2 linked regions of the Homo sapiens genome follow. The protein of the gene in region 1 purifies or fractionates together with the protein of each later gene. This does not show direct contact. Each region holds a gene or a part of one and is shown on either strand. Other genes may lie near its edges.

Region 1 (3,500 bases):
AGCGAAATAAACATCAGGGAAGACTCTACATTTAAAATCCAACACATATACTTTACTGTCTTCCAAGGGTTCTGGCCAGATGTGAACACATGGCACTTATATGCATTTTCTAAAAAAAAAAGTTTGGAAGCAGTATGAATAATTTAAAGAAAAACCCTCCAAAAACATGACATCAAAGTTTTAAGGAGTCAAAATATCCACATAAATACAGGAATATCTATATATGTACATAGATATATATATATATAAATACATATATACTGTATATATGTACTATATACACACATATATGAAACATATACAGTGTGTACACAGACCTACATGTATTTATGTATACACACTACACACACGTATTTAAGCTATAAATATATTTTAAAAAACACCAGGCATATATAATAATCAGGAAGAAAAACACTCAGTTGACTAATGCTAATTCTAAATGACTGCAGATAAAGTGGTAGTCATTTTTCTCCCACTTTTTGATTATTTTTCTTCCGCTTTTACTGATCACTCTAATTGTGCTAAGACACTGTAGAGCTGGACACAGTAAATGTAGATTGAACAAAAGAGCAGCAAAGGAAGGCCTCACGCTCTCTTCCAGCCTGCGTACCAGGGCCCAGTGGCTGGGATAACAATGCATTTTGGGAGAAAAGACGGAACCTACTGCTCCTTTACTGGTCCTCTCCTGCCCTAACAAGTGGAATCATGCAGATGCCTGGGCTCACCTGCCCTGAGAAGCAGGAAGTCAAGGGAAGACGCAAGGTATATACAGAGATGCTCTGCCTCAAACACTGTTTACTTGAGGAATAAGGGGAAATCTCTGGTCAGAGTGTTCCAGATAACAGTGAGAATGCACTAACCAATCAATCCTAGAAATTAATAGGAGATTAATGTTGGCTGCATTACCATTTTTAAAAGCAGGAAAATTTAGAAGGTCTGCTAAGAATATGAAAGTAACATTGCTTTTAATTTTAGCTAAAAGATTAATATCAAAGCCTTATTTAAAAGTACAATAAAGCTGGGTATGGTGGTTCAGGCCTGTAATCCCAGCACTTTGGGAGGCTGAGGTGGGTGGATCACCTGAGGTCAGGAGTTCAAGACCAGACTGGCCAACATGGTGAAACCTTGTCTCTACTAAATACACAAATTAGCCGGGTGTGGTGGCATGCACCTGTAGTCCCAGCTACTCAGGAGGCTGAGGCAGAAGAACTGCTTGAACCTGGGAGGCAGAGGTAGCAGTGAGCCAAGATCACACCACTGCATTCCAGCCTGGGCAACAAGAGTGAAGCTCCGTCTCAAAACAACAACAACAAAAACAATAAAAGTATATAATAAGCTACTAGAATTAATTTTAATTAATAAACAAAAGCCTGGAATATAGCTATGTATATAAGATATTCTCCAAATGCAATGAATAAATATTTCTGACATCAGTTTTTCAAAAAAGTTTTTTTCCCTTTCTTTTCTCTTCCTCTGGGAAGATGTTTAAATCTTCTATGGATACCAACTGCTTCCTGAGTCAGGAAGAATTCTAGAACTACACTGTCCAATCAGGTAGCCATTAGCTAGTGGCAATTTAAATTTAAAGTTAAAATTAAATTAAAAATTCAGTTTCTCAATCATACCTGCCACATTTCAAGTGTTCAAAAGCTGTGTCAATTAAAATGAAAAAAGAAAAATCTACATGAATATTTTAGATATTTAAGTTATAATAAACATACCAAATTTTTAAAAAAGCTGCATGCAGCCAGTGGCTATCATATAAGAAAGTACAGAATTAAAGACCATGCCCCTCTTTGAATGAAGGTCTAATGGATAGCTCCACTGTAGATCAATTCCTCTTCTATAATATATAAAGAAGCAATGTTACAACAATAAACATTATTCAATTGTGTACATTTTGTCTCCTAAAACAAACTCTGTTTAGTGCCTAGCTTTGCCTGGCATGAAAGTAGCAGCCTCAGCCACAGCTCTCTGCACTGTACTTTGATAAGAAGAGCCACACTGGCCCCTACTCAGGACCTGCCACACATTCAGACACAGGTATTTCCATGTAGGTACCTACTAACCTCAGGCACCTTAGGGGGACCAGGCTTAACCTTCTCTTCAGGAACTTTTTCTTTCAGAAACACAGTATGCACATTCAGGGTCCCAATCAAAGTATTTGGCTTAAAACTCAAAGGTTGTTGGGTTTCTGAAGACCGAATTTCAAGGGCATGGTGGGATGGATTCAGGTGGTTCTGAAGGCAAAGTTCAACCAGTAGGTCCATCATCGCATGGCTGAAAAAAGGAAAACAAATCATGATTATTAGGAATGACTGCACTCTCTCTTTTGCCTGGCTAAATAAGGGTAGAACAAATGAACAAGTGGATGAATGAGCAAATTAGATATGCTTATGAAAAAAGACAACAGAAGCTCATTAATTCCTTCTGCATGGTTGTAGAGCAATATGTTAACATTTTCAGCACTAACAAACAACACTATTGAAAGAGAAAAATCATAATTAATAGCTTGGAAAATAGTTATATTTTTAGTTAAATCCAAGGGTATGTTGAGTTGGATCATCTAAGGTCTGTTAGCACAAATATTTTTCATGCATACAAGACACTAAATTTTCAGTTATTCAGAAATATAATGTATCTTTTTGATTTAACTTTTAAGTTCAGGGGTACATGTGCAGGTTTGTTACACAGCTAAACTTGTGTCATGGGGGCTTGTTGTACAGCTTATTTTATCAACCAGGTATTAATCCTAGTACCCATTAGTTATTTTTTCTGATCCTTTCCCTCCTCCCACCCTCCATCCTCTGAGAGACTCCAGTGTTTGTTGTTGTTCCCCTCTATGTGTCCATGTGTTGACATCATTTAGCTCCCACCTATAAGTGAGAACATGCAGTATTTGGTTCTCTGTTGTTGCATTAGTTTGCTAAGGATAATGACCTCTAGCTCCATCCATGTTTTTACAAAGGACATGATCTTGTTCTTTTTTTTAATGGATGCATAGTAGTCCATGGTGTATCTGTACTACATTTTCTTTATCCAACATACTATTGATGGGTCTTTAGGTTGATTCCATGTCTTTGCTATTGTGAATAGTGCTGCAATGAACATACACATGCATGTGTCTTTATGACAGAATGATTTATATTCCTTTGGGTATACACCCAGTAATGGGATTGCTGGGTTGAATGGTAGTTCTGCTTTTAGGTCTTGGAGGAATTGCCACACTGTCTCTTCCACAATGGTTGAACTAATTTACAATCCCATCAACAGTGTATAAGTGTTCCTTTTTCTCTGCAACCTTACCAGCATCTGTTGGTTTTTGACTTTTTCATGATAGCCCTTCTGACTGGTGTAAGATGGTATCTCATTGCGGTTTTGATTTGCATTTCTCTAATGATCACTGATGTTGAGCTTTTTTTCATGTTTGTTGGCCTCATGTGTGTCTTCTTTTGAAAAGTGTCTGTTCATGTCCTTTGCCCACTTTTTCTTTTTTATTA
Region 2 (3,500 bases), on another chromosome or scaffold:
TTCTCCTGCCTTGGCCTCCCGAGTAGCTGGGATTACAGGCGCCCACCACCACACCCAGCTATTTTGCATTTTTAGTAGAGACGGGGTTTCACCATGTTGGCCAGGCTAGTCTCGAACTCCCGACCTCAGGTGATCCACCCACCTCGGTCTCCCAAAATGCTGGGATTACAGGCATGAGCCACTATGCCCAGCCAATTTTTAATTTTGTATCTTCTTTTTTTTTTTTTTAAGAGAAGGAGTCTTACTATGCTACCCAGACTACAGTGTAGTTGCTATTGCCGGGCCTGTTCATAGCACACTACAGCCTCAAACTCCTGCGCTCAAGCAATTCTTCTGCCTCAGCCTCTTGAGTAGCTAAGACTATAGACATATGCCAACTTGCCTGGCTCAATTTTTAATTTTAAAGCAAAAAAGAACTATGAAAATGAAAAATATATACATATTAAAGGATTAGATCTCAAAGGTTTTAATCTATAAAGGTACCAACTAAAGTACAATCCCCAAAACAGGATTAACTGCTTTGTTTACAATGCAAAAACTACTGGGTACTATTTTAGGATCTTACATTCATTGTCTAATCGATCCTTACAAAAACCATTCTTCACCAGAAGATAGCTTCTAGATCCCTTCCCACTCCCGTCATCCTCCTCTAAATATCTGTTAATCCCCCTCCTAAAGAACCCAAAATAGGCCAGGCGCGGTGGCTCACATCTGTAATCCCAGCACTATAGGAGCCTGAGGCAGGTGGATCACAAAGTCAGGAGATCCAGACCATCCTGGCCAACATGGTGAAATCCCGTCTCTACTAAAAATACAAAAATTAGCCGGGCTTGGTAGCGTGCGCCTGTAGTCCCAGGAGGAGGTGAAGGTTGCAGTGAGCCGAGATGGCACCACTGCACTACAGCCTGGGCGACTGAGCAAGACTCCGTCTCAAAAAAAAAAAAAAAACATAGTCCAGGCGCGGTGGCTCACACCTGTAATCTCACCACTTTGGAAGGCCGAGGCAAGCGGATCACGGGGTCAGCAGATCGAGACCATCCTGGCTAACACGGTGAAACCCCGTCTCTACTAACAATACAAAAAATTAGCTGGGCGTGGTGGCAGGCGCCTGTAGTCCCAGCTACTCAGGAGGCCGAGGCAGGAGAATGGCGTGAACCCCGGGGCGGAGCTTGCAGTGAGCCGAGATCATGCCACTGCACTACAGCCTGGGGCGACAGAGTGAGACTCCATCTCAAAATAAATAAATAAATAAATAATAAAGCACAACACTCCAGGTGTGGTCTGATCAAGAACTATATACAGTGAAACTAACAATTCCCATCATCTAGGCTCTTTACAATGAATACACCTAAAATTTCTTTATATCATCATCTATTTGTGAAATGCTGTTTTTGCACTTCCCGGAATTTCATTTCCAAAGCTCTTCTTAAAGTTTCAAAGAAAATCGCCAGGTGCGGTGGCTCACGCCTGTAATCCCAGCACTTTGGGAGGCCGAGGCAGGCAGATCACCTGAGGTTGGGAGTTCAAGACCAGCCTGACCAACATGGAGAAACCCCGTCTCTACCAAAAATACAAAATTAGCCAGGCGTGGTGGCACATGCCGGTAATCCCAGCTACTAGGGAGGCTGAGGCAGGAGAATCACTTGAACCTGGAAGGCAGAGGTTGCGGTGAGCCGACATCACGCCATCACACTCCAGCCTGGGCAACAAGAGCAAAACTCCGTCTAAAAAAAAAAAAACAAAAAACAAAACAAGACTGGGCGTGGTGGCTCACGCTTGTAATCCCAGCACTTTGGGAGGCCGAGGTGGGCAGATCACGAGGTCAGGAGATCGAGACCACAGTGAAACCCTGTCTCTACTAAAAATATAAAAAATTAGCCGGGCTTGGTGGCGGGCGCCTGTAATCCCAGCTACTCAGAGAGGCTGAGGCAGGAGAATGGCATGAACCTGGGAGGCGGAGCTTGCAGTGAGCTGAGATCGCACCACTGCACTCCAGCCTGGGGGACAGAGCGAGACCTCGTCTCAAAAAAAAAAAAAAAAAAAACCAACCCAATTCTATAAAATTTTCTCAAAAGATTTTATAAAAGGTTCCATTTTCTTTTTCATCACAACAACAAGAGTCACAAAACATGGTACTTAGCCATAGGAAAAAAACATTATTTGAGTTACATATGTCAAGCATACTACATAACTAGTAATTATAAATAGTATAAAATTTTTATGTCTTTTTGCTTGTAGTACTATTTTTTTCTATCTTTCTTTCTTTCTCTCTCTTTGAGACTGGGTCTCACTGTCTCCCAGGCTGGTAGAGCCTTGTCCACCCAGGCTCAAGTGATTCTCTCACCTCAGCCTCCCCAGTAGCTAGGACCACAGGTGTGCACCACCACACTCAGCTAGCATTTTTTTTTTAATTGTTTGTAGACATGAGGTCTCACTATGTTGCCCAGGCTGGTCTCAAACGTCTGGGCTCAAGCAATCCTCCCACCTCATCCTCCCAAAATGCTCGCATTACAGGTATGAGCCACCTCGCCCAGCCCAGTACTATTTCTCAGTTAAAACAGGATGTTGACTTGTAAAATGAGAACAAGCTCCTAGCAGAGTGGCAAGCATGCAACTGGTGCTCAATAAATGTAAATTCCTTCCCTTCAGAGCTCCTAGCCTTGGTAAGGACAATGTGTCAAAAGGACTGCTAATGAATTGCTGCGGGAGAGCTACTGTGCTGTGAAGTATAAAAATTTACTTTGGAATAAGCTTACTTATTTTTGAAAATATTTCAGTAATTTAAAAAATATCGAGCCAGGTGCAGTGGCTCATGCCTGTAATCCCAGCACTTTGGGAAGCCAAGGCAGGCAGGTCACTTGAGTCTAGGAGTTCAACACCAGCCTGGGCAACATGGCAAAACCCTATCTCTACAAAAAATACAAAAATTAGCCAGGTGTGGTGGCAAGCACCTGTAGTCCTAGCTACTCGGGAGGCTGAGGTAGGAGGATCACTTGAGCCCAGGAGTTTGAGGCTGCAGTGGGCTATCATCATGCCACTGTACTGCAGCCTGAACGATAAAGTGAGACCCTGTCTCAAAAAATAAATAAACAGGCCAGGTGCAGTGGCTCACGCCTGTAATCACAACACTTTGGGAGGCCGAACTGGGTGGATCACTTGAGGTCAGGCATTCAAGACCAGCCTGGCCAACATGGTGAAACCCTGTCTCTACTAAAAATACAAAAATTAGTCAAGTGTGGGGGTATGTGCACCTGCAATCCCAGCTACTTGGGAGGCTGAGGCAGGAGAATCACTTGAACTTGGGAGGCGGAGGTTGCAGTGAGCCGAGATCACGCCACTGCACTCCAGCCTAGGCAACAGAGCGAGACCCCATCTCAAATAATAACAATAATAATAAATAAATAAATAAATAAATATTGGAAAGTTCACTGAGATCAATTATGTTAAACATACTATATGAAGAAACTCCTACTTGTGATAATATTCATCTGAAGCCATTT

What was found. The genes of interacting proteins can lie anywhere in the genome.
Region 2: the proteins of COBL (region 1) and WDR47 purify together in Homo sapiens (affinity purification with mass spectrometry; 2 studies listed by BioGRID and IntAct, with this or other methods). This does not show direct contact.

Annotation. Positions count from the first base shown.
Region 1 is NC_000007.14:51,191,310-51,194,809, forward strand, and holds part of COBL (protein cordon-bleu), read right to left. Parts: intron 2,281-3,500; coding exon 2,070-2,280; intron 1-2,069.
Region 2 is NC_000001.11:109,035,603-109,039,102, forward strand, and holds part of WDR47 (WD repeat-containing protein 47), read right to left. Parts: intron 1-3,500.